Linked DNA regions of Homo sapiens: regions 1 and 3 are each linked to region 2. Evidence: fine-mapped expression QTL. A gene starts in region 2. Each other region holds a variant in brackets. All regions are shown on one strand. Distances are between the middles of the regions. Region 1 overlaps ZNF473CR (ZNF473 cis regulating lncRNA). Region 2 holds the start of VRK3 (VRK serine/threonine kinase 3). Region 3 has its middle 9.9 kb from the start of SNORD88C.

Evidence for each region. PIP is the estimated chance that this variant, and not a neighbour inherited with it, causes the effect.
Region 1: its variant is fine-mapped to the expression of VRK3 in whole blood (TOPMed, PIP above 0.99). The same link has a PIP of 0.9 or more in esophagus muscle and pancreas.
Region 3: its variant is fine-mapped to the expression of VRK3 in monocytes after LPS (Kim-Hellmuth 2017, PIP 0.95).

What each region holds. Positions count from the first base shown.
Region 1 is chr19:50,067,158-50,075,334 of GRCh38, reverse strand. ZNF473CR (ZNF473 cis regulating lncRNA) reads right to left here. Exons shown (of 5, transcript NR_138096.1): 3 at 7,535-7,644; 4 at 142-210. Among named protein-coding and RNA genes, the nearest start is that of ZNF473CR, 21 kb to the right of the region's middle. The variant C/T (reference allele first, on the strand shown) is at 3,344.
Region 2 is chr19:50,021,167-50,029,343 of GRCh38, reverse strand. It overlaps VRK3 (VRK serine/threonine kinase 3), which reads left to right and starts at 3,972. Exons shown (of 15, transcript NM_016440.4): 1 at 3,972-4,077. It overlaps ZNF473 (zinc finger protein 473), which reads right to left and starts at 3,339. Exons shown (of 5, transcript NM_015428.4): 1 at 3,222-3,339. RefSeq lists enhancers at 3,186-3,235, 3,646-3,695, 4,036-4,115, 4,165-4,666.
Region 3 is chr19:50,808,195-50,816,371 of GRCh38, reverse strand. It overlaps the pseudogene TMEM277P. Among named protein-coding and RNA genes, the nearest start is that of SNORD88C, 9.9 kb to the right of the region's middle. The variant G/A (reference allele first, on the strand shown) is at 3,456.

The sequences.
Region 1 (8,177 bases), 46 kb before region 2:
GCTCCATCACCACCCAGAGACCCAGGAGTCCCAGGCCCAGCCCCTCCTCCCTCAGACCCAGGAGTCCAGGCCCCCAGCCCCTCCTCCCTCAGATGCAGGCATCTCCACCCCCAGCCCCTTCCCTGTGGCCAGGCTGCTTACCCCTCACTCGGAGTTCTCTTTCTCTGATAGTCCTTTGCTGCCTTTTGTGAAGCTGGTCACAGTCTTTTCCTAAAGGAGAAAGTGCAGAAGGTTCGGGAGTGAGAGACAGAGAGTTGAAACAGATGCTAATCATCAACAGGAGAAGACGTCAATCCTGTTTCATTATTTAGGATGCGCTTTCTCACTTGGCCCTGAAGTGACGGACAGATGGTATTACAATTCCATTCTACAGATGGGGAAATGGAGGCACAAAAAAGAGGAGTCTCTGCAAATGCGAGGAGAGATGAGGCTGTAGGGATGAGTGGGGCAAGTCCTGCATGGTATCAGAGGGGCTGAGACTCTGTCCTGGGGCCACTGGGGAGCCACGGGAGGGCTGTGAGCAAGGAAGGGGAGGGGAAGCTCTGGGTGTAGAAGGATCTTCTGGGGCCACAGGGAGCATGAGGGGCTGAAATTCATGGGCAGTGTCAGGACTCGGCCTAGACTCTGTGCCGCCAGCGTTGCCCAACATGGGCAGTGGCTCACCAGAAACTCCTGGGAAGGTTGGTGGGATGAATTAATGAATGGATAAATGAGTGAATGACAGGAGGAGGGAGTAGCCTCCATCCTATCCACCTTAGTAGAGTCCCCGTCTTTTCCAATCTCAAATCTGAGTTCTGTGCCCAGCTGTTGGGTCCCTCATGATCACTGGAAAAAAGCCCACAGCAGGGCCAGACTAAATCTGGTGATGTGGTGAAAGTTTGCTGGAGACGTGATGCTGGAGAACTACTGGAACCTTCTCTCCCTGGGTGAGGCCCCTCCCTCTGCCCTCCCCCGGGGGAGGCCTGATGCCCCCGGCACCCTCTCTGATGCCCCCAGCCCTCTCTCTGATGCCTCCTGGCACCCTCTTCTCATTCATGTCCATCCCCTGCCATCTGGGGGCCTCTGTGCTCCTCTCACTGGTCCCTCACGCCTGGCCTCTCCCTTCCTCTCTTTCTGGGGGCCTCTCCCTTCCTCTCTTTCTGCCTGGAGTCCCAGCAGCCAGGAGGGCCCAAGTCCCTTGGCCTGTCCTGTAAAATGTGAGTCCCGCAAACTCTTCAGCCTGTGTCCCCAGCTTCTTCTTCTTCTTCTTTTTTTTTTTTTTTTTTTTTTTTTGAGATGGAGTCTCACTCTGTCACCAGGCTGGAGGGCAGTGGCGTGATCTCAGCTGACTGCAATCTCCACCTCCTGGGTTCAAGCAATTCCTCTGTCTCAGCCTCCCGAGTTGCTGGAATTACAGGCACACACCACCATGCTGGCTAATTTTTGTATTTTTAGTAGAGACGGGTTCACTGTGTTGGCCAGGCTGGTCTGGAACTCCTGACCTCAGGTGATGTGCCCACCTTGGACTCCCAAAGTGCTGGGATTATAGGCGTCAGCCACCGTGCCTGGTCATCCAGCTTCTTCTAACGCTTTCCCTTCCACACATGGTGACCTCCCTGTCCCCGGACTTCAGGCTCCACACTGGAACGCCCAGTCCAGAATCTCAGGCTCCAAGCGCCTCCCGGACATGTTCCCAATCAACAGGTCCCAATCTGACCTCGGCATCTTCTCCCCAGAGCATATAAACGCTGTCCCCTAGTGTGTCTCCGAGATCCTGCACTTGCCCACCTTCCTGCCTCCAGGCATAGCCCTCCCCACCTCCCACCCCTCACATCCACCCCACGCCGAGCTCAGTTCACCCACCGTCCTGCTTCTCTTCCTCCAGGTCCCCACCTCTGGTTGGCCCCACATCCCCCCAGGTCTCCAGACCAGACCCCCGGGCACCATCCTCGGCCCTGACTTGCTTAGTTTGAGCTGCTCTAACAAAATGCTGTAAACTGGGTAGCTTCTAACAGCAGAAATGTATGTCAGAGTTGGCCGGGCACGGTGGCTCATGCCTGTAATCCCAGCACTTTGGGAGGCCAAGGCGGGCAGATCACGAGGTCAGGAGATCGAGACCATCCTGGCTAACACGGTGAAACCCCATCTCTACTAAAAATAAAAAAAATTAGCCGGGCATTGTGGTGGGTGCCTGTAGTCCCAGCTACTCGGGAGCTGAGGCAGAAGAATGGTGTGAACCCGGGAGGCGGAGCTTGCAGTGAGCCGAGATCGCGCCACTGCACTCCAGCCTGGGTGACAGAGTGAGACTCCGTTTCAAAAAAAAAAAAGAAAGAAAGAAAGAAAGAAATTTATGTCAGAGTTTTGGAGGCTGGGAAGTCGAAGATGAAGGCGACAGCAGACTTGGTGTCTGGTGAGGGCGCTTCCTGGTTCATAGACGGCGCCTTCTCTCTTTTTTTTTTTCTTTCTTTTTTTTAATTGAGTCAGAGTCTTACTCTGTCACCCAGGCTGGAGTGCAGTGGCGCAATCTTGGCTCACTGCAACTTCCACCTCCCGGGTTCAAGTGATTCTCCTGCCTCAGCCTCCCCAAATAGCTGGGATTACTGGTGCCCGCCACCACACCCAGCTAATTTTTTTGGTATTTTTAGTAGAGAGGGGGTTTCACCATGTTGGCCAGGCTGGTCTTGAACTCCTGACCTCAGTGATCCACCCACTTTGGCCTCCCAAAGGGCTGGGATTTACGGGCATGAGCCACCACATCCGGCCGACAGAGGCTGCTCTCTATAGCCTTACAGAGTGGAGGAGCAAGAGAGCTCTCTGGGGTGTCTTTTGTAAGGGCACTAACCCCTGCCACGAGAGCTCTACCCCCATGACCTAATCGCTTCCAAAAGGCCTCAGCTCCTAACACCATCACCTGGGGACTAGGTTTCAACTTATGCATTTTAGGGGGATGCCAGCAATTCTGCTCACAACATCCCCTACTTCCCCTTGTCCACAGGACCCCTCAGGCCACAGCCCTGCCCTCCTACACCCTCCTTACCATCCCCACGGCCCCAGCCCTGCCCAGGCCTCGTCTTGCCCCTGCACCTCAGCACAGCCCCCTTGCTGGTTTCACTTCCCACCTTCCTGGACCTGTCGTTCTCCGTCTTTATGTTCCCCTGTAAGTAGCTGTGGTGATGTGACGTCTCCATCCTCAGCCCTCCTCACTCACGCACTTTCTCTGGACAAACTCATCAAAAATGTGGCTTAGGCTGGACGCAGTAGCTCACATCTGTAATCCCAGCACTTTGAGAGGCCGAGGCGGCCAGATCATTTGAGGTCAGGAGTTTGAGACTAGCCTGGACAACACAGTGAAACCCCATCTCTA[C/T]TAAAAATACAAACATTAGCTGGGCATGGTGGTGGGCACCTGTAATCCCAGCTACTCAGGAGGCTGAGGTGGGAGAATCACTTGAACTTGGGAGGCGGAGGTTGCAGTGAGCTGAGATCTCGCCATTGCACTCCAGCCTGGGCAACAGAGTGACTCTGTCTCAAAAAAAAAAAAATGTGGTCTCATTAAAAACGTGGCCCAAACTTCTCCATCAGGGTCGGTCCCCAAGACCACCACAGGTGACTGATTTGTTAGCGGGTGCCAGGGACTCAGCCCTTAGTTAAACGCTCAGTGATGGTTTATTACAGAGAAAGGAGACAGCACAGCTGGCAAAGGGGAAGGGCACCCGGGGCGCCATCCAGGAGAAACCAGGCCAAGCTTCCAGAACCTTCTCCCAGTGGAGCCACATAGGATGGTTTAATTCTCCCAGCAGCAAGAGGTGACAACACATGGGAAATGTTATCACCAGAGAAGCTCACCAGAGACTCAGGGCTCAGCATTTTTTTTTTTTAACAGGATCTCTCTATATTGCCCAGGCAAGTCTTGAACTCCTGGGCTCAAGCTATCCTCCAGCCTCTGTCTCCCTACGAGCTGGGATTACAAGCGTGAGCCATCGTGCCCGGCTGTGCTCAGGGTTTTTCCTGGGGGTTGCTCACACAGCCCCCTCTACTAAAATGTACCCAAATTTTAGACTCCTGGGAAAAAAGCAGGTGTTCAGCATAAACCATGGTGTTTGCACAAACAGTTTAGGGCTGGGCACAGTGGCTCACGCCTGTAATCCCAGCACTTTCGGAGGCCAAGAGAGGAGGATCACTTGAGCCCAGGATTACGAGTCCAGCCTGGGCAACATAGTGAGACCCCTATCTCTAAAAAAAATTAAAATTAAAATTAAAACCACAAGCAACTGAGGCTCTAGTGAGCCCCACATCAGTTAGGAAATTCTGGGAACCCTCCTAAAGTCCAGGTTGCTGGACCTCAGCCTAGGGTCTACCTGGCCATCAGGACTTTCCAAAGGGAGCATCTCAGGCCGGCTGTGTTCACCCTTTTCCACACATCCACAATGGTGTCCCTTCAATGTGTCCCATGAGTTTCAACCTTGTATAGCTTGTGGCCTCCACAATACCACCATGGGGAAGGCTCAGGACCCCACACTCCCTGTCTCCCCTGAGCGGGTCATGTCACCCCCAAACTCATTCCTCCTTCAGGTCTCCCATCTCAGAGACAGACCCCTGCCCACCCAGAGACCAGGCCAGGCCAGTCCAGGGCACTGACTTTTTTTGTTTTTTTGTTTTTGAGACGGAGTCTCGCTCTGTCTCCCAGGCTGGAGTATAGTAGCACGAGCTCTGCTCACTGCAACCTCCGCCTCCCAGGTTCAAGCGATTCTCCTGCCTCAGCCTTCTGAGTAGCTGGGATTACAGGCATGCACCACCACACCCAGCTAATTTTTGTATTTTTAGTAGAGATGGGGTTTCACCATGTTGGCCAGGCAGGTCTCGAACTCCTGACCTCAAGTGATCTGCCCACCTCAGCCTCCCAAAGTGCTGGCATTCCAGGTATGAGCCACCACACCCAGCCCAGGGCACTGTCTTTACCATCTCTTTCATACCCGTATGTGTCCTGGCCCTGACACTCTCCCCAGTGTCACCACTTTCTGTTCCCCCACTGCCTCACTCTGTGGTGATCACAGGAAGGTTGTCTTTTTTTTTTTTTTTTTTTTTTGAGATGAAGTTTTGCTCTTGTTGCCCAGGCTGGAATGCAATGGCGCGATCTCGGCTCACCACAACCTCCGCCTCCTGGGTTCAAGCGATTCTCCTGCCTCAGCCTCCCGAGTAGCTGGGATTACAGGCATGCACCACCACATCCGACTAATTTTGTATTTTTAGTAGAGACAGGGTTTCTCCATGTTGGTCAGGCTGGTCTCGAACTCCTAATCTCAGAGATCTGCCCACCTTGGCCTCCCAAAGTGCTGGGATTACAGGCATGAGCCACTGCGCCTGGCCTTGTCTTTTTTTCCTTTTTTTTTTTTTTTTTTTTTTTGAGACAGTCTCACTGTTGCCCAGGCTGGAGTGCAGTGGTGCGATCTCAGCTCACTGCAGCCTCCACTTCCCGGGTTCAAGTGACTCTCCTGCCTCAGCCTCCCGAGTAGCTGGGATTACAGGCGCATGCCACCACGCCTGGGTAATTTTTGTAATTTTTAGTAGAGACAGGGTTTCACCGTGTTGGTCAGGCTGGTCTCGAACTCCTGATCTCAAGTGATCCGCTGGCTTCGGCCTTGAAAAGCGCTGGGCTTACAGGTGTGAGCCACGGCACCTGGCCAGAAGGTTGTCTTTAAGATGGCATCTGTGACAGCACATGCGTCTGCTCACGGGCACGAGCAGTAGGGGCATGGGGGAGTGTATCCTGCTGCTGCCACAATGCACAACCACAAACGTGGTGGCTTATGACAACAGCCATCAGTTCTCTCATGATTCTGGACCAGAGTCTAAAACCAAGGTGACAGCTCGGCCACGCTGCCTCCAAAGGCTCCAGGGGAGGGTCCTTCCTCACCTCTTCCAACACCTGGTGCCTCCTGGCATTTCTTGGCTGGTACCCGCCTCCCTTCTTTCTCTGCGTCTGTGCCATGTGGCCTCTTCCCTCCGTGTCTGTGTATCCTCTTCTTCTTCTTCTTTTTTTTTTTGGAGATAGAGTCTTGCTCTGTTGCCCAGGCTGGAGTGCAGTGGCACGATCTTGTCTAGGGAGGCGGAGGTTGCAGTGAGCTGAGATCGTGCCACTGCACTCCAGCATGGGAACAGAGAGAGACTGTCTCCAAAAAAAAAAAAAAAAAAGACCTTAGTGGCAATGCCTTCTTGGGCACCAGCACCCAGGTCAGAGGCTGTTTGGCTCTAACCACAGCAGGGCTGTTACCTGGTGAGCTCAGTGCAGGCCAAGAGGGACAGGGCAGGTAGGGGTGCAGGCAGGGGAGTGGTTACAGGGATGGGTGGTAAATGCCAGGCTGGAGAGTGGAAGGTGAAATCATGGGAGGCAATACATGGTGAGGGGGCTGCAGTATCAGAAGATTAGCTGTCCTGGGTCCCTGCTCCTCTGTCCCCTGACTGTGGCAGTTAGAGGCAGACCTCATGGTTCACCCAGCCACCAAGCCAGGCTCTAGGGCACCCTCCTTGTCCATGGAAGGATAGCTGGAGTCAAGAACTGGAGAAAGGTCAGGCACGGTGGTTCATGCCTGTAATCCCAGCACATGGGGAGGCTGAGGTGGGAGGATTGCTTGAGGTCAGGAGTTCGAGACCAGCCTGGGCAACATAGCAAGACCTTGTCTCTACAAAAAACGTAAAAATTAGCGGGATGTGGTGGCATGCACCTGTAGTCCCAGCCACTCGGGAGGCTGAGGTGGGAAGATGGCTTGAGCCCAGGGAGATCAAGTCTGCAGTGGGTTGTGATTGTGCAACTTCACTCCAGCCTGGGCAACAGAGCAAGATCCTGTCTCAAAAAATAAAATTAAAATAATAAGATAAAGTATAGTGGAGAAAGTCCCCGGGAGGCTGGGAGGTGGGAGGGGGTGTCTGACACCAAGATGTGGAGATTTGTGTCATTATCAGAGATGAAGGCTGTGACCATAGGCCTGGGCACCTAAGACAGAGGGAGGACAGGATCCTTGTAGGAAAGGAGTCCCGGAGTCACCCTGGATTGTAACTGTGTCCAGGTCTGCCTCCCCCTTCAGCCTGAGACGCCCTCAAGCACAGGGGAGTGTCCAGATCATTTCTGTATCTCCAGCAGTGCCAGGGAGTGGCACAGGGAGACCGGGAGGCCTTTGGGCATGTTTTTTTGTTTGTTTGTTTGTTTGTTTGTTTTTTAGACAGAGTCTTGCTCTGTCACCCAGGCCAGAGTGCAGTGGCGCGATCTCGGCTCATTGCAACCTCCACCTCCCAGGTTCAAGCAATTCTCTGCCTCAGCTTCCTGAGTAGCTGGGATTACAGGTGCCCACCACCACGCCCGGGTAATTTTTGTATTTTTAGTAGAGACAGGGTTTCACCATTTTGGCCAGGCTGGTCTTGAACTCCTGGCCTCGTGATCCACCCGCCTTGGCCTCCTAAAGTGCTGGGATTACAGGCATGAGCCACCGTGCCTGGCCAGGCATGTTTGTTGAACCAAAATTCATCTCCTCCTCACCCCTAGTCTAGTCACCTCTTGGCTCACCTCCTCCAGGAAGTTTCCTTTGATTTCTGCACCCTCTGTGACTTCCTGCAGTGTTGCGTGTTTCTTCCATTCCTGCTCACACAACACTAGACTGTGCCTCGGTTTCCTGCCTGAAGGGTGAAAATGAGGTACTACATTTAACCAGCTTAGAAACATGCCTGGCATGTAATCTGCGCTTAATAGACATTCACTTTTTAGTATCACCCTAACTATTGTAATTACTTCATGTTTTAATCAGGGATGGTATGTTTGTCTACAGTGATTCAAGACAGTTTCATCAAAACGAAAATGTCTGGACTGGGTGCAGTGGCTCATGCCTGCAATCCCAGCACTTTGGGAGGCCAAGGCGGGCAGATCACCTGAGGTCAGGAGTTCGAGACCAGCCTGGCCAACATGGTGAAACCCGTTTCTACTAAAAATACAAAAAATTAGCCAAGCATGGTGGCAGGCACCTGTAATCCCAGCTACTTGGGAGGCTGAGGCAGGAGAATTGCTTCAACCCAGGAGACGGAGGTTGCAGTGAGCCGAGACCACACCATTGCACTCCAGCCTGGGCAACAAGAGTGAAACTCCATCTAAAAAAGAAAAAAGGAAATGTTCAGGGTGGGTGGATCACTTAAGCCCAGGAATTTGAGATCAGCCT
Region 2 (8,177 bases):
AAACCCCGTCTCTACTAAAAATACAATAACAAAATTAGCCAGGCATGGTGGTGGGCGCCTGTAGTCCCAGTTACTCAGGAGGCTGAGGCGAGAGAATGGTGTGAACCCGGGAGGTGGAGCTTGCAGTGAGCCGAGATGGCGCCATGCACTCCAGCCTGGGCGACAGAGCGAGACTCCGTCTCAAAAACAAAAACAAAAACAAAACAAAACAAAGTCCCAGCGCAGTGTGGATCAGGCTGCATTTCATAATTGAACACTTTACCCTAGAGAAAAGTATCATCGTTCATTCTAGGTAGAATAATTTAAAGTTATATTTAAAAAATACCCTGTAGTAGTTCAGGTAAGGCACGGACACTAAATTTATGAAAAAAAATTTGTTGTTCTGAGTTGTCCAGATTTTTGAGACTACAAATATGGGAATATGGTAGACCTACAATAAATGCTAATTCTACTGAACAATGAGTTTTTCTACATGTCAGAGGTTAAGCCTCAACCTACGAGTATAACTCAGTTGACAGATATTTGGCCCATAATGTTTGTTGGCAGACAGAATGTTTTGAAAGAAAATTCAAGCATGGCTCACTAGTCTCAAACTTGAAAATTGGGAAATTTCACCTAAAAATTATGTTTCCAACTTCTGAAACATCCTAGGATTTGGCAACATTGGGTCTACATCCCACGAAGTTAGTTCACTGGTGCCCATTTAAAGCTCCCCCACCAGTGCTAGGCAAGTGGGGGATGCTTATAATCCCAGCACTTTGGGAGGCTGAAAGGTGTTCGAGACCAGCCTGGGCAACGTAACAAGACCTTGTTTCTAAAAAAAAAAAATTAAAAATGAGCAAGTTGTGGTGGCACGTGCCTGTAGTCCCAACTACTTGGGAGACTGAGGTAGGAGGATCGCTTGGGAGGCTGAGGTAGGAGGATCACTTGAGCCCAGGAGTTCAAGGCTGCAGTGAGCTATGATTGTGTCACTGTACTCCAGCCTGAATGACAGAGAAAGATCCTGCCTCCAAAAAAAAATTAAATTTGTTTTTTTTTTTTTTTTTGAGACGGAGTCTCGTTCTGTCGCCCAGGCTGGAGTGCAGTGGCGCGATCTCAGCTCGCTGCAAGCTCTGCCTCCCGGGCTCATGCCATTCTCCTGCCTCAGCCTCCTGAGTAGCTGGGACTACAAGCGCCTGCCACCACGCCCGGAGAATTTTTTGTATTTTTAGTAGAGACGGAGTTTCACCGTGTTAGCCAGGATGGTCTCGATCTCCTGACCTCGTGATCCACCCACCTCGGCCTTCCAAAGTGCTGGGATTACAGGCATGAGCCACCACACCCGGCCAAAAAAATTAAATTTAAGTTTAAAAAGCGGCTGGGTGCAGTGGCTCATGCCTGCCATCCCAGCACTTTGGGAGGCCAAGGCAGGCGGATCACCTGAAGTTTGGAGTCCAAGACCAGCCTGATCAACATGGTGAAACCCCCGTATCTACCAAAAATACAGAAATTAGCCAGGCATGGTGGTGCACGCCTGTAATTCCAGCTGCTTGGGAGGCTGAGGCAGGAGAATCGCTTCAACCGGGGAGGTGGAGGTTCCAGTGAGACCGAACTCCAGCCTGGGTGACAGAGCGAGACTCTGTCATCAAAAAAAAAACACAATTCTCCCCTTCAGATGAGGCAAGTGCTCCCCAAGGCCCCGCAGCCTCACCTGGACCAGTTCTCTTCTTTCCTGTATGTCATCTGCCTGGCCCTCACAGACAGCTGAGCTTGAGATCCCTGTCTGCAGTTACCAAATCACATTCTGCCCACATCTCATATACTCTCAGCTCTGGGAGGAAAGAAACGAGGGCCCAGAGGTGGAGCCCAAGGTCATCCAGCCCAGAGTGACTTAAGCCAAACAATTATCAGGCTGAGAGACCTTGGGCCCAAGAGTCTTGCCCTTCCTTCCAGACCATTTACCTTCTCTAAGCCTTAGTTTCCACATGTACCAAATGGAACAAATACAACAGATCTATGGTCCTTTAAATGCTCCAAAAACCAGAACTTGATTTATAAACTGACCGCAAAACTTCACCTGGATTGCCACAGGCCATGTAGGGTCTTAATGTTCTCATAAGTGTGAATATTCACACCTTGCCCCACAGAAACATTTTATGACCAAAAACTGGCCCAGATTCCTCGGGGTGTGGGGGGGTGCTGCCTAATTATAAAATATGCACCCTATTAGCTTTCTAAAATCTGAAAAATTCTGATTCCCGAGATTGCCTTGGTGCCAAGGGGACCTGCACTTATGTCTCAGTGCTGCTGCGGGGATCAGAAGAGGAAATGCAACTCCAGCAGGGCGCCTGGCACACAGAAAGCACTCAAATACTGTAAATGTTAAGTACTTCAACTTCCCGAAGAACTCCCATCCATCGTCCAGCAAGATTCTGCCTAAATTTGCCAACTTCAGGTAACTCATTCCCCTCCTTCCCCAACCAAAACCAAAATAAAACAGAACCACTCCTCTCAGGGCCATCAGGGAGGCCTGGAAACCCCTTTAGCAGTTTTCTTTTCTTTTCTTTTCTTTCTCAGCTCACTGCAACCTCTGCCTCCTGGGTTCAAGCAATCCTCCCACCTCGGCCTCCCAATTAGCTAGGAATACAGGGGCGCACCACCACGCCCGGCTAATTTTTCTATTTTTTTCTTCTTTTGTGGAGACAGGGCTTCACCATCTGGCCCAGGCTAGCCTCGAAATCCTGGGCTCAAGCGATCCGCCCACCTCAGCCTCCCAAGGTGGTTTTCTTCCTTTCTTTTTTTTTTTTTTTTTTTAAGATGTAGTCTCGCTCTGTCACCCAGGCTGGAGTGCAATGGCGCGATCTCGGCTCACTGCAACCTCCAGCTCCTGGGTTCAAGCGATTCTCCTGCCTCAGCCTCCTGAGTAGCTGGGATTACAGGCCCCCGCCACCACGCTCAACTAATTTTTGTATTTTTAGTAGAGACTGGGGGTTCGAGGAACTCCTGGCTGTAAGTGATCCCCCCCGCCAAGGCTTCCCAAAGTGCTGGGATTACAGGCGTGATCTACCGTGCCCAGACCTTGAGCGGTTTTCATAACAGACTGTGAAAGACGGTTCACACCTTCACCCTGACAACCGCCGCCCAAGGCGACGCACCCTTTGCCGAAGTCGCCCCCACTTGCATTCCGTCACCTCTCAGGAAGGACCGAGCCCGCAAGTCCCTCAGCCCCAGCGTCTCCGTACCTCGGGATTGTAGTCGGCCGCGTCAACAGACGCAACCCCAGCCTCAAGGGAGCGGGAGATTCAACTCCCCGCACACGCGCCTCCTCGCAGCGACTTCCTGTGCGCGAGAAGCTTCTCTGAGCGGCTGCACCCAGGATCCTCCGCGGCAGCGCCAGGACTCTATTTCCCAGAGGGCTGTGCGGGCGACTTCTTTCGCCTTCCCATCTCCTCCTGCTTCTTCAGCCTTAGCACTGTGGGAGTAGAGTAGAAAGAGAATCAGGACCAGGCGGCATCAGTTTGTAGTCCAGATTTTTACCTTGTTAAAGAATCATCTAATTAGCTTCTTGCCTTTACTAGAAGTCAGGGAGTGTTAACCTTTTCCGAAGAGCAAGCGGTAGGTTGCCATGGAAACGCGTTGTGACGGGTTTCTGAGAAAACAAGCGGAAGTAAGGGGCGGAGTTGAGGCAGAAGTTTAGGTAATGTGACCTCTGATTGGTGGAGAGGTACCTCACGGTGCATTCCGATTGGTCTGACACTGACACATGCGCAGTAGAACCAGAAGGCGTTCCAAAGCGGCTAGAACGGAGGGGAGGGGGATGAGCAATGAGGGAATAATCCCCATTCCGTCTGGAATCAGAGGGCGGGCCTGCCGCGGAGGCATCTGGGAAACGGAGTTCCCAGGCAGGCGAAGCCCAGGGGCCGTCAGGAAGTCAGCGGCGCCTGCGCGGGCGCCTCAGATTCAGGATGCGCGCGCAGCGCTCTCCGCCCAGCGGAAGTTTTCGCTGGGCAACTGAGAAGGTGAGTCCGGGTAACTGCGGAGGATCCGAGGGTCAGGCTGCAGAAGCCCAGAATCCCACCCCAGTCCCCAAGTACAGAGGTGAGGGGAAGCGAGGCGAACGAGGGGACGTCCCCCGACCCCCTAGCCGCAGCTCGGCCGGGGCGTCCGTGACGTCAGCACGACCGTTTGTGGGAGGCGGAGGCCCCTGCTGTCGGGGTTCGGAATGAGAGCGGCTCCGGGTCGCGGGGTTCACTGGCCTCCTCTTGAGCTTCCCAAGCCACCTTGGGCTCCGTGTTGGGCATGGCTAAGGCGGAGATGGGCGGAACTTGTGGGAAGTTCGACAGCTCCTCCGCTGTGAAACTTGGCGTCTAAGTCATCCCGTGGTTTCTATGGAGGTGCGGCCGAAGGGAGGCTCTGTCGTCGCCTAGGCAATCGCCCCACCTGCGCTGAGGTGGGGTCTGACTTTTAGCCTTTTTGCTGTGCTGTTTCCTGAACTTTCTAGGAGGAACACTATACAGTAGTTGACGCATAGCAGCTGTTCCCTAAACATTTGTTGAATAAGTCAAATAAATTAAGATAAAGACTGGCCTGAGGGTTGGAGTCTTAGGGTTTCAAGTCCTGACCTGGCCATTGCATAGGTGACTTCAGCACATCCAATTTTATTGAGCGTTTACTATATGGAAGGCTCCGTGCAACCGATATTACACTACTATAACCTGGGTTTGAACGGTGCTAGTCTAATAGGCACTGTTCAAGCCCAGGTTATTATAGCAGTGTCTAAAACAAAAATCCTGCCCAGCTAATTCACATTCTCAGGGTGGTTGGGGATGCCAGACACTAAAAAAGAAATGTTAAAGAATATTTACAGGTCTGCAGTCCCTTATCTATAACTTTAAAATCCAAAACGTTCTGAAAACTGAAAGGTCTTTTTCTCTGTTTTGCAACTTACTTGGCAGGCCAACCTCACCTGGCTTTGAACTTGTTTGCTGGCAATACCCACTCTGAACTGATGTGTGACTATTTAGAATTTTTAAAGATTTTGTTGTGCAAATCATATACTTATGGAGAGTTGCCCCTGGATCTCGCCGGTGTTGTAATATGTAATAGGTTCTAAAATCCAAAAAATTTGGCTGGGCACGGTGGCTCCCGCCTGTAGTCCCAGCACTTTAGGAGACCGAGGTGGGCGGATCACCTGGGTTCAGGAGTTCGAGACCAGCCTGGCCAACATGGTGAAACCCCATCTCTACTAAAAATAAAAAAATTAGCCGGGCATGGTGGCATGCGCCTGTAATCCCAGCTACTCGGGAGGTTGAGGCAGGGAGAATCGCTTGAACCCAGGAAGCGGAGGTTGCAAGTGAGCTGAGGTCGTGCCACTGCTCTCCAACCTGGGTGACATAGCAAAACTCTGTCCATCATGCAATACATGGCAGAAGCAAGATCCAAACCCAGGCAGATTATTTCCCAAGTTTATCCTCTTAACCCCTGTACTGATCTGCTTCTAAGTGGCACGTCTTTTTTAGGGACCATCCAGCTAGATAATTCCGGCCCTGAGCTTTGAGTCTCTGGCTGGATGTCTAGATTTGCCTGAGAGATGAATGTGTACTGACACAGCTGGGGACCCCCCCCACCCACCTTCTTGGCACATTTTCTTTTGCAAAGGAGACAATGATTTATTCACTCAGCAGACGTAGACCCAGCATTTGCTCTGTGCCAGGCCTGTTTGAGGCTCTGGGCACACTGTGGCAAACAAGGCAGGGAAAAGTCCCCGCCATCATGAAGCTTACATTCTAGTAAGTCAGAGTATGTCAGGTAGTGACAAGCACTGTGAAGAAAAATAAAGCAAGGTAAGGAGGATAAAACATGCTATTAGTAAAATGGTGTCCAGGGCCAGGCACGGTGGCTCGAGCCTGTAATCCCAGGACTTTGGGAGGCTGAGGGGGATCACCTGAGGTCAGGAGTTTAAGACCAGCCTGGCCAACATGGTGAAACCCCATCTCTACTAAAAATATAAAATTAGCCAGGCGTGGTGACACGCATCTGTAATCCCAACTACATGGGAGGCTGAGGCAGGAGAATCACTTGAACTCGGGAGGCAGAGTTTGCAGTAAGCCGAGATCGTGCCATTGCACTCCAGCCTGGGCGAAAAGAGCCAAACTCCATCTCAAAAAAAAGAAAAGAAAAAACACAGTAAAATCGTGTCCAAGAAGGTCTCTGAGAAGGTGACATTTGAACAGAGAGCTAAAGAATGTGATGAGGAAGTTAACTGTGTGCACTCTTAGGGGGACAGCGTTCCAGGCAGATGGGAGAGCAGGTGCAAAGGTCTTGGGGAAGAAACGTTCTTGTCACGATTGGGGAAAAGCACCGAAGCTGTTGTGGCTGACTCAGCGTGAGCAAGGGGAGAGGTGGGAGAGGTCAGAGAGGGAACAGGGAAGTGGCAGATCATACAGGGGGCTCCTGGGCCATGGTAGGAATTTCAGCATTTATTCTGTCTAAAATGAAATCCACCATACGGTTTTGAGTAGAGGAGGGACAGGGTCTGACTTACATTTTATTTATTTATTTGTTTATTTATGAGACTGAGTCTTGCTCTGTTGCCCAGGCTGGAGTGCAGCGGTGCAATCTTGGCTCATTGCAACCTCTGCCTCCCAGGTTCAAGCGACTCTTGCGCCTCAGCCTCCCAAGTAGCTGGGATTACGGGTGCCCACCACCACGCCCGGCTGATTTTTTTTTTTGTACTTTTTTAGTAGAGACGGGGTTTCACCATGTTGTCCAGGCTGGTCTGGAACTCCTAACCTCACGTGATCCGCCCACCTCGGCCTCCCAAAGTGCTGGGATCACAGGCGTGAGCCACCGTGTCCGACCCACCATATGGGCCAGGGCAGGGACACAGACAGGGTCTGACTTAGATTTTAAGTGGATCCGTCAAGCTACTGGGTTGAAAATAGATTGTAGGGACAAGCGTAGAAGCCGAAAGTCTAGTTAGGAGGCTGCTGCAGTAGCACAAGGGAGAGATGGTGGCCTAGACCAGGCTGGTGACGGTGTCAGAACCGGGGGTGGCACATGGTTAAAAGACTCTCTTGCCGTGGTTCCACACCCAACATCAGCTTCCAGATTTAAATCTACAAGAATGTTCTGACCTGCTGCCCCAAGAACCCAGTCCGGTTTTGCGTTTTCGTTGTATAAATTGGCACCAGGTGAAGAACATGGGCTTTTGGGTTCTGGATTTCAGCTGCGTCCCCACTGTTTTCTAGGTGAGTGGAGTCAGGTCTGGGGGAAGGAGAATTGTCACCCTTTGAGCATCATTTTGTAGGTTTCAAAGATGGGATAATCATCCCTACCTCATAGAGTGGAGGGAAAGATTAAACAAAATCATGTGTCTGGCTCGCCGCTTAAGAGGTTTGTGGCCCTGGGCAAGTCATTTGCTCTCTGAGCCTCTGCTTCTCATCTCCCCAAAGGGGAAATCATTCTTACCTTGAAAAGGGTGATTGGGAAGGTTCTGTAGATAATACCTGCCGAGAACTTAGCACAGTGGTCTGCACATACTGAACTGTCATGAAATGAGAACCGTCTTAAGTGAGTGACTTGACCTCTCTGTGCAGCAGGGACTCCCTGTCCCGGTTACTATGTCTAGAGAACAAATCGTCCCACAATTCACTGGTGTAGAACCACCATTTCTTGTGCCCATGGATCCTATGGGCCAGGAATTCAGAGTGAGCACAGTGAGGTGGCCTGTTTCTGCTCCCCAGTGCCTGTGCCTTAGCAGGAAGACTTGAAGGCTGGGGTTTAAGTGGTCTGAGGACTTGCCCACTCACCCAGCAGCTGATGGTGGCTGTTGGCCAGGGGCCTCAGTTCCTCTCCACCTGAGCCTCTCCATGTGGTTTCTCTGCCTGGGCTACTTTAGGCTGCCTCATGCCGTGGAAACTGGCTTCCATGGGTGAGCATCCTGAGCGAGCCAGCCAGGTGCAAGTTGTTTTTTATGACCCAGCCTGGGAAGTCTCATGGCCTTACTGCTGCCGGTCCTCTATTGGTAGGAGCAGTCACAGCTCTGCCGAGATCCAAAGGGGGAGGAACAGAGACCCTGACTCCTGGGAGGAGGGGTTACAAGGTTCCAAAGAGCACACAGGACCAGAAATAGTCATGTGACCTGCTTTGGAAAATACAAATGCCACACTCTCCTATGAAGTGGTGATAATTCTGGA
Region 3 (8,177 bases), 790 kb before region 2:
CACACAAGAAAAACTTTCAAGTCAAATACTCTAAAACCAATGTGCCCAAAAGCTTAGTTCCAGTTTACAGTGGATATTTATCCAACTTAGACTTCCAGCAGAAGAGAGGTTTACCTGTTTCCGAGATGCTACATCTCCTCCTTTTAGCCCTTTTTCTACTTTGTCTACTTTTCAACAGTGCAAAATTGTTTTAGCCAAATAGGCCAAGACCTCATCTGCTTTGTTTCTGGCAAACTGCACATCTCTAATACCCAACAAGAAAGATAAAGGATCATCATATATACAGAAGAGCAACAGCACTCTGGGAAGTGGGGGAAATATCAGACCCCTTGGTTTTTTGTTTTTGTTTTGTTTTGTTCATAGAGATGGGGTCTCACTGTTACCCAGGCTGGTCTCAGATTACTGAGCTCAAGCAATCCTCCCTCCTTGGCCTCTCAAAGTGCTGGGATTACACGTGTGAGCCACCATGCCCAGCCAGTTCCCTTAGTTCTTTCTGCTCATTGAAGAGTCAAGAAGCAGAGGTCAGGGAGAAGGCACCAAGCCAGAAACCAAGACCTTGAATGGTGAATTTGGTCTGCCCAGAACAGCAGCCTGACATCTCTTGGGGACACCCTCCACCCAACTCACATAACCCTGGATGAGGGATTCTCCTGGCATATGCTGGCCTCTGGGCCACAGAGGTAATCATGTGATTCTGGCTGAGCCAATCACAGTACCCCAGCTGCAGACCCTGCAATTGGCCCAAAGATGGACACATGACCAAAGCCCAACCAATCAAGCTCTGCCCCAAGACTTTTTATTAGGAAGCTGTCAAGGAAAAGCAGTCTCTCCTCAAGGATTACAAGCCTGAAGCTGCCTAAGCCTTGGACCTAGCTTCATGGGGAGAGTAAAACTAAGAAGGAAAACAGACAAGCGAAAGAGCATTGAGCTGACACTGAAGTCCCTGGCTCTCGTCATCCCAGAGAGCAGCCCACTCTGTGATTTGGTCAGAATGAGTGGATATTTGCAGCTTACCTCCCCACCATGCATTTCACCTCCTGCCCATTCCCCATTCTCAGCCCCAGTCTTAAGCCAATCAGCCAACTGTACTCCACTGGCCATATAATTGGCTCGGGGTGCTCATGTGCCCCAAGCCACACAGGATTCTTGCAAGAACTGTTGATAACTTTTTTCTACCGGACTCGGCAGTTATTACCAACTCTGCCAAGTTGCTAACAACTCTGCCAGTTTTTTGTCTGTCTGCTCTCAGATCCATTTCCCGCCCTGTCCTGTTCTGCACTGCAAGGACCACATTTCCCAGCCTCCTTTGCTCACCATCTTATCACTGTGTTTGACTAATGGGAGGCACTGGCAGAAGACTGGTTCTGGGAGGAGAGGGCAAGCCAGGGTATTTATTAGCCTCTCTATCTCTGCATGTGGTGGGTCTTCCGTAGTAGTTGTATCTATTCTCTGATTCTAGCCACTTCTGAGCAATCCAACCATGAACCTATGCGTTCCAGAGGGCTGCAGTTTCTGGACTGTAGTAATACCACCTCCTCCCTTTGTCCTTCTGGCCAAGTAGCAGCATCCTGTAGTTCCTAACTCCTGGTTTGCCTCACTATTTCCTATTGGCTTCTCAGCTCCTCTGTTACTCACGAACAAATTCCCTGTATTTACTTCCTTCTGAAGAATCTGGAATGATTTATTTTCCTTACTGGATTCTGACTTGCCACTACACAGAGCCTTGAGAATGAAGCCAATCCCATAGCCAAAAAACAGTAATATCTGATACTATCACTTGGGCCCCTGGATCCACCCATGCCTGAAGGCATTCCTACCATTACCATTTTTCACTCAGGTGATCCCATAAAGGATCCCCTAGCTAGTTCAAGTTAGTTCACTCAAGCTAATACAACTAGTTCACTCAAGCTAGTTCAAGTTAGAGTTTGTGTCACTTGTGGCTGGGCACGATGGCTCACACCTGTAATCCCAGCACTTTGGGAGGCCGAGGCAGGTGGATCACCTGAGGTCAGGAGTTTGAGACCAGCCTGGCCAACATGGTGAAACTCCGTCTCTACTAAAAAGATAAAAGTTAGCCGGGCATGGCAGCGGGCGCCTGTAATCCCAGCTACTCCGGAGGCTGAGGCAGGAGAATCGCTCAAACCCGGGGGGTGAAGGTTGCAGTGAACCAAGATCACGCCACTGCACTCCAGCCTGGGTGAAAGAGTGAAACTCCATCTCAAATTTAAAAAAGTAAAAAATAAAAAAAATTTAAAAAAAAAGAGTTTGTGTCACTTGTGACCCAAAAACTCCTGACTAATTCAAGTCCCTTCCTTAGGACAGCAGGGAGCACAGAATTCAATGTTCCCTGCATACCAACTCCAAAATCACAATCAAAACCTAAAAATAAGTAATGAGAATTTAAAAAAACAGAACTGAATGTTCATCAAAAATCTGGAGGGAGAACCTCCCGAAGCCAAGAAGCAATTAATAAAGTCACAGAGACAAAGGTGAAGAAATTAAACTACCTAAAAATTCTAAGGCTGGGCACAGTGGCTCATGCCTGTAATCCCAGCTCTTTGGGAGGCTGGGGTGGGCAGATTGCTTGAGCTTACAAGTTCGAGACCAGCCTGGGAAACATGGCAAAACTCTACCTCTACCAAAAAATACAAAATTATAGCTAGGAATAGTAGCACTCCCCTGTAGTCCCAACTACGTGGGAGGCAGAGGTGAGAGGATGGCTTGAACCTGGGAGGCGGAGGTTGCAGTGAGCCGAGATCTCATGCCACTGCACTCCAGCCTGGGTGATAGAGCCAGACTTTGTCTCAGAAAAAAAAAAAAAAATTCTAGATTTCTATACCTTAAAAAATAATAATAAGGGCCAGGCGCAGTGGCTTATGCCTGTAATCCCAGAACTTTGGGAGGCTGAGGCAGGTGGATCACCTGAGGTTAAGAGTTCGAGACCCGCCTGACCAACATGGTGAAACCCCATCTGTGCTAAAATTACAAAAAAATTAGCCAGGCACGGTGGTGCCAATTACCTACAATTCCCGGGTCAGTATCCAAGACCCTCCACCAGCCAGGAACAGTCACGGGGTCAGTATCCAACAGCCTCCACCAGCCAGCAGCAATCGCCTGGTCAGTATCCAAGACCCCTTGCCAATTATTCACAATCACCAGGTCAGTATCCAAGACCCTACACCAGCTATCAGCAGTCAACAGATCAGTATCCCAGAAACACCAGCCATTACCTACAGCCACGATTTCAGTATGCGAGGTGCTTCACCAATTTTCCAAACTCGCTGCTTCAGTATCCAAGGCTCTCACCCCCTGACTAATCATCAATTATCCCCAGCAACAAAGATCATGACCAAAACTACCTGTCAACAACCGAGACTGCCCATTTAAGTGTTCCAACCCCCAACTTCCAAGCCTGGGCCATTGTCAATGTGCTCCCATCACTTACCTACGGCCCC[G/A]AGCCCAGTATCAAAAGCATTGAATCAGTTACCTGGGAGTCCCAGGAGAGTCTGAAGGCAAGTGTGCTCAGCTCTGAACTCAACCAAAGTCCTCTAGACAACATGCAAAACCTCTCATTGTGCAGCTCCATTGAGATCAATTCTGGCAGGTATGAGGCAGTGCCCAGGCCGGAGGCCAAGTTCTGAGCTAGACTTCTGGGGGAGGAGAAGCAGTGCTGTGACATCTCCTGCCTGCATGAGCACAGCCAGGATGCTTGGAAGGCCTGCCCTGCCCTCACCACTCCTGGGACCCATCGCTCCACTTTATCCCAGGGACCCCTCCACCTGTCACAGAATGGTTTCTTCCTTTCCTGCAATGATCTTCACAGGTATTTTATGAGTCTCACGGCCCCAGGGTGGTCCTCCCAGCCACAGGATGATCCTCACTGACTGAAATGATCCTCACTGACTGAGATGGTCCTTACTGCCCCAGGATGGTCCTCACAGCACTGGGATGGTCCTCATTGTCATAGGATAGTCCCTACTGCCCCAGGATAATCCTCACTGCCCTGGGATAGTCCTCACAGCTCTAGAATGGTCCTCACTGCTCCGGGATAGTCCTCACTGCCCTGGGATACTCCTCACTGCTCTCGAATGATTCTCACTGCCCTGGGATAGTACTCACTGGTCCAGGATGGTCCTCACTGCCCTGGAATAATCCTCACTGCCCCAGAATTATCCTCACCACCCTGGGATGGTCCTCATTGCCTGAGATGGCCCTTACTTCCATGGGATGGTCCTCCCTGCCTGGGATGGTCCTCACTCCCTGGGATGGTCCTCCCTGCCTGGGATGGTCCTCCCTGCCTGAGATGGTCCTCACTGCCTGGGACGGCCCTCCCTGCCTGGGACGGCCCTCCCTGCCTGAGATGGTCCTCCCTGCCTGGGATGGTCCTCCCTGCCTGGGATGGTCCTCCCTGCCTGAGATGATCCTCCCTGCCTGGGATGGTCCTCCCTGCCTGAGATGATCCTCCCTGCCTGGGATGATCCTCCCTGCCTGAGATGATCCTCCCTGCCTGAGATGGTCCTCCCTGCCTGAGATGGTCCTCCCTGCCTGGGATGGTCCTCCCTGCCTGAGATGGTCCTCACTGCCTGGGATGGTCGTCACTCCCTGGGATGGTCCTCACTGCCTGGGATGGTCCTCACTCCCTGGGATGGTCCTCACTGACTGGGATGGTCCTCACTCCCTGGGATGGTCCTCCCTGCCTGAGATGGTCCTCCCTGCCTGAGATGGTCCTCACTGCCTGGGATGGTCCTCACTGCCTGGGATGGTCTTCCCTGCCTGAGATGGTCCTCACTGCCTGGGATGATCCTCCCTGCCTGGGATGGTCCTCCCTGCCTGAGATGGTCCTCACTGCCTGGGATGGTCGTCACTCCCTGGGATAGTCCTCACTCTCTCGGATGGTCCTCAATGACTGGGACGGTCCTCACTGCCTCAGAGGGTTCTCACTGCCCTAGGATTGTCCTCACAGCCCTAGAGTGGTCCTCACTTCTGGGAATGCTCCTCACTGCCCACCCCACTTCTCACTGCCCAAGAAGCTGCCCTCACCAACCTAGAGGTAGATCCTCAGTGCTGGAAGTATCAGTCTCAATGTCTCTTCTCTGGAGCCCAATTTAAATTTTCCTAAAATGAGAATAAATAATTTGCAAGGGAGGAGCTTTGAGAATACTCCCACACCAACTGGTGACCCTTGTCCCCATACTCAGAGCCTGGGCCAATCATGGTGTTCCTGATTATCTTCCTTCCCCAGACTTGCTGGACCTTTCCTGGGCCTTCCTCCTCTTCTCCAGCATCACCAGCTTCTGCCTTTGCATAGCCCTAATAAGCACCATCCTCTTTACCGGCTCCAACCCGTCCATGCTGGATTTCTTCACCTTCATCACCAGCATCCTGACAGGCATGGCACTTCCCTCAGGAACCAAGGCGAGGAGTACCTCCTCCAGTGCCAATCATGAAACCCAATCCCATCCCCACCACACTCCAATCCCATCCCCATCCTGACCATCATCCGCAATCCCAACCCCATCTCCTTCCAAATCTCTAACCCATTCCCATAAAAAACATCAACCACCAGCCCAACCCTATCTCCAGCCCCAATACCAGCCTCCACTTCAAGTCCCATCTCCATCACCAACAAATCTCAAACTCATTCACATCCCTTTCCCTCATGCCCCTACTCCATCCCAATTCTACATTCTTTCCAATCACCAAACCATCCTCATTACCATCCGCAACCTCTTCAAACATCTCAACAACCAACTTTGCAGCATCCCAACCATCCTCAACATATGTTTCAAATGCAACCCAATTCTATCACCTGTGAACTTCAATGCCAAACTCAATCTAGTCCATTCCCCACTCCATCCTCTTACCCATATCCAATCCATTTTCATCCCCAACCATGACCTATCCTCATCCACAACCCACTCCCATCACAACTTACCCCCAACCACCACCCATCCCCACCACAACCCTTCCCCACCACAATTCACTCCAACCACAACCAACCCAAACCACAACCATCCCATCCACAACCCACCCCCAACCATAACCTATCCCCACAACAATCCACTTCCAACCATAACCCATCCCCATCCTCATCCCCAACCACAACCCATCCCCATCCCAACCCACCCCCAACCAGACCATCCCTGTTCCAACCCATCCTCAACCACAAACTACCCCATTTCAACCCATCCTTACCCCTAACCATAACCCACCCCCAACCACAACCCACCCCAACTACGACCCACCTTCAACCACAACCCATCCCAACTGCAACCTATTCCTGACACCACTCTCAACCTCGTCCTCTAACACTCAAACTTCAACCTCTACCCAATACCCAATCCTATTTCCCATTCTAACCTCATCCCAAATCCTGTCCCATCAGCAGCAGCAGCTCTGTGATTTTGTTCAAGCTACTTCATCTCTCCAAGCCACAGTTTTCTCATCTGTAGGATCAGGACAAAATTTGCTACCACATGGAAACGTACTGAGGATTGAATTAGAAATGTCAGTACTTGGCCGAGTGCAGTGGCTCACACCAGCACTTTGGGAGGCCAAGGTGGGTGGGTCATGAGGTCAGGAGTTCGAGACCAGCCTGGCCAACATAGTGAAACCCCATCTCTACTAAAAATACAAAAATTAGCCAGGCGTGGTGACGCACGCTTGTAGTCCCAGCTACTTGGGAGACTGAGGCAGGAGAATTGCTTGAACCTGGGAGGCGGAGGTTGTGGTGAGCCAAGATCACGCCACTGCACTCCAGCCTGGGCAACAGATTGAGACTCTGTCTCAAAAAAAAAAAAAAAAAAAAGCATTTATGCAGTTTATCTAGTAGCTCTTCCTAATTGTTTAAATATAAAGTACAAGGTATAGAATATTGCGCAAAAAAAGCATGAGTTTTCTAAAAACTATAAAAAACACCTTCGTTTTAAACCATCTATAACAGAACATTTTTCTATAAGAAAACCATTTCTGTCTATTCCTCCTTTTAATTAAACAAAAAATACCTTCTATATTATTTTCAATAACATCAGACAAAACTACCCAGTACTCCACTGTCCAGGGGAAAAAGTCTTTTCCTATTCACAAATTATCTTTAATTCATGTCATTCCAATATATCCAGAATGACCAAGTTCCTTGTCTATTGCTTCTGAAGCCCTAAATTAAAGACCCAATAGAATGAAAATAATCAATCCCAATCCCTAAGGGCTTGCTGTGTATCAGGAAATGTGCCAACCTCAGTAACTCCTCATGACGGCCCAAGGAGATGGGTCCTATGATTGTGCCCACTCTACAGATGAGGAAACTGAGGCTCAGAGATATGGCATGGCTGCCCTAAGTCCAGAGGTGGAGGCAGGGAAGATCCCTGCTGTTGGCCTCAAAACCTGTGGTTACAGACTTACCATTGCCTGGTTAAAGCCCAAGGCTTGCCCTTTCAGTGTCCTCTAGCAGGACTTGGTCAGAAGCCCATCTTCATGCTTAGGAGCAAAGGTACAGGGTCTGGGAGGTTAAAGAAAGTGGGGAAATAATGAGCCAGAGCCAGGCAGCCACATGACTATGGGAAGGAGTCCTTACATATCTGATTCTCAGCCTCCTAACACCTGTGCTCATGCAGGAACCAGCATCGTACTGGGTATCCTGTTCTACCTGCTGCAGGCCCACAGGTACCTGCAGGAAGGCATGACCTACCAGCTGGCACTCAGCTTCTACCTGACCTGGGCCAGTGTCTTCCTCTTCCTGATGACTGGTATGGGAGAGGATGAGGTTGGCTTTGGGTATGGGTTCAGGGATGCAGACAGGAATAGCATTTGGGATAGCATTTGGGACGGGGTGGGGTTGTGGACAGGGCTAGATAGGAAGTGACTGAAGTGGGAGGCGGGATTGGGGATGCACATGGGGCTGGATAATGGGGATGGGACTGGGTTGGAGTTTGCGTATGGGTTAGGGACAGTGTAGGGGATGAAGGTGAGTTTCGGTTTGGAGATGGGTTTGGGAATAGGTTAGGGTATGGAATGGAATTGGTGATGGGTTTAAGAATAGGTTTGGGGATGGGGTTTGATGCAGAGCAGGGCATGCAATTGGGCCTGGGGACAGGACTGTGATTGGGATTGGGTGGGTGAACTCTGTGTCTCATCTCCTGTGCCCTCTTCCTCTCCACAAGGCTTCTTGTCCTATCTGA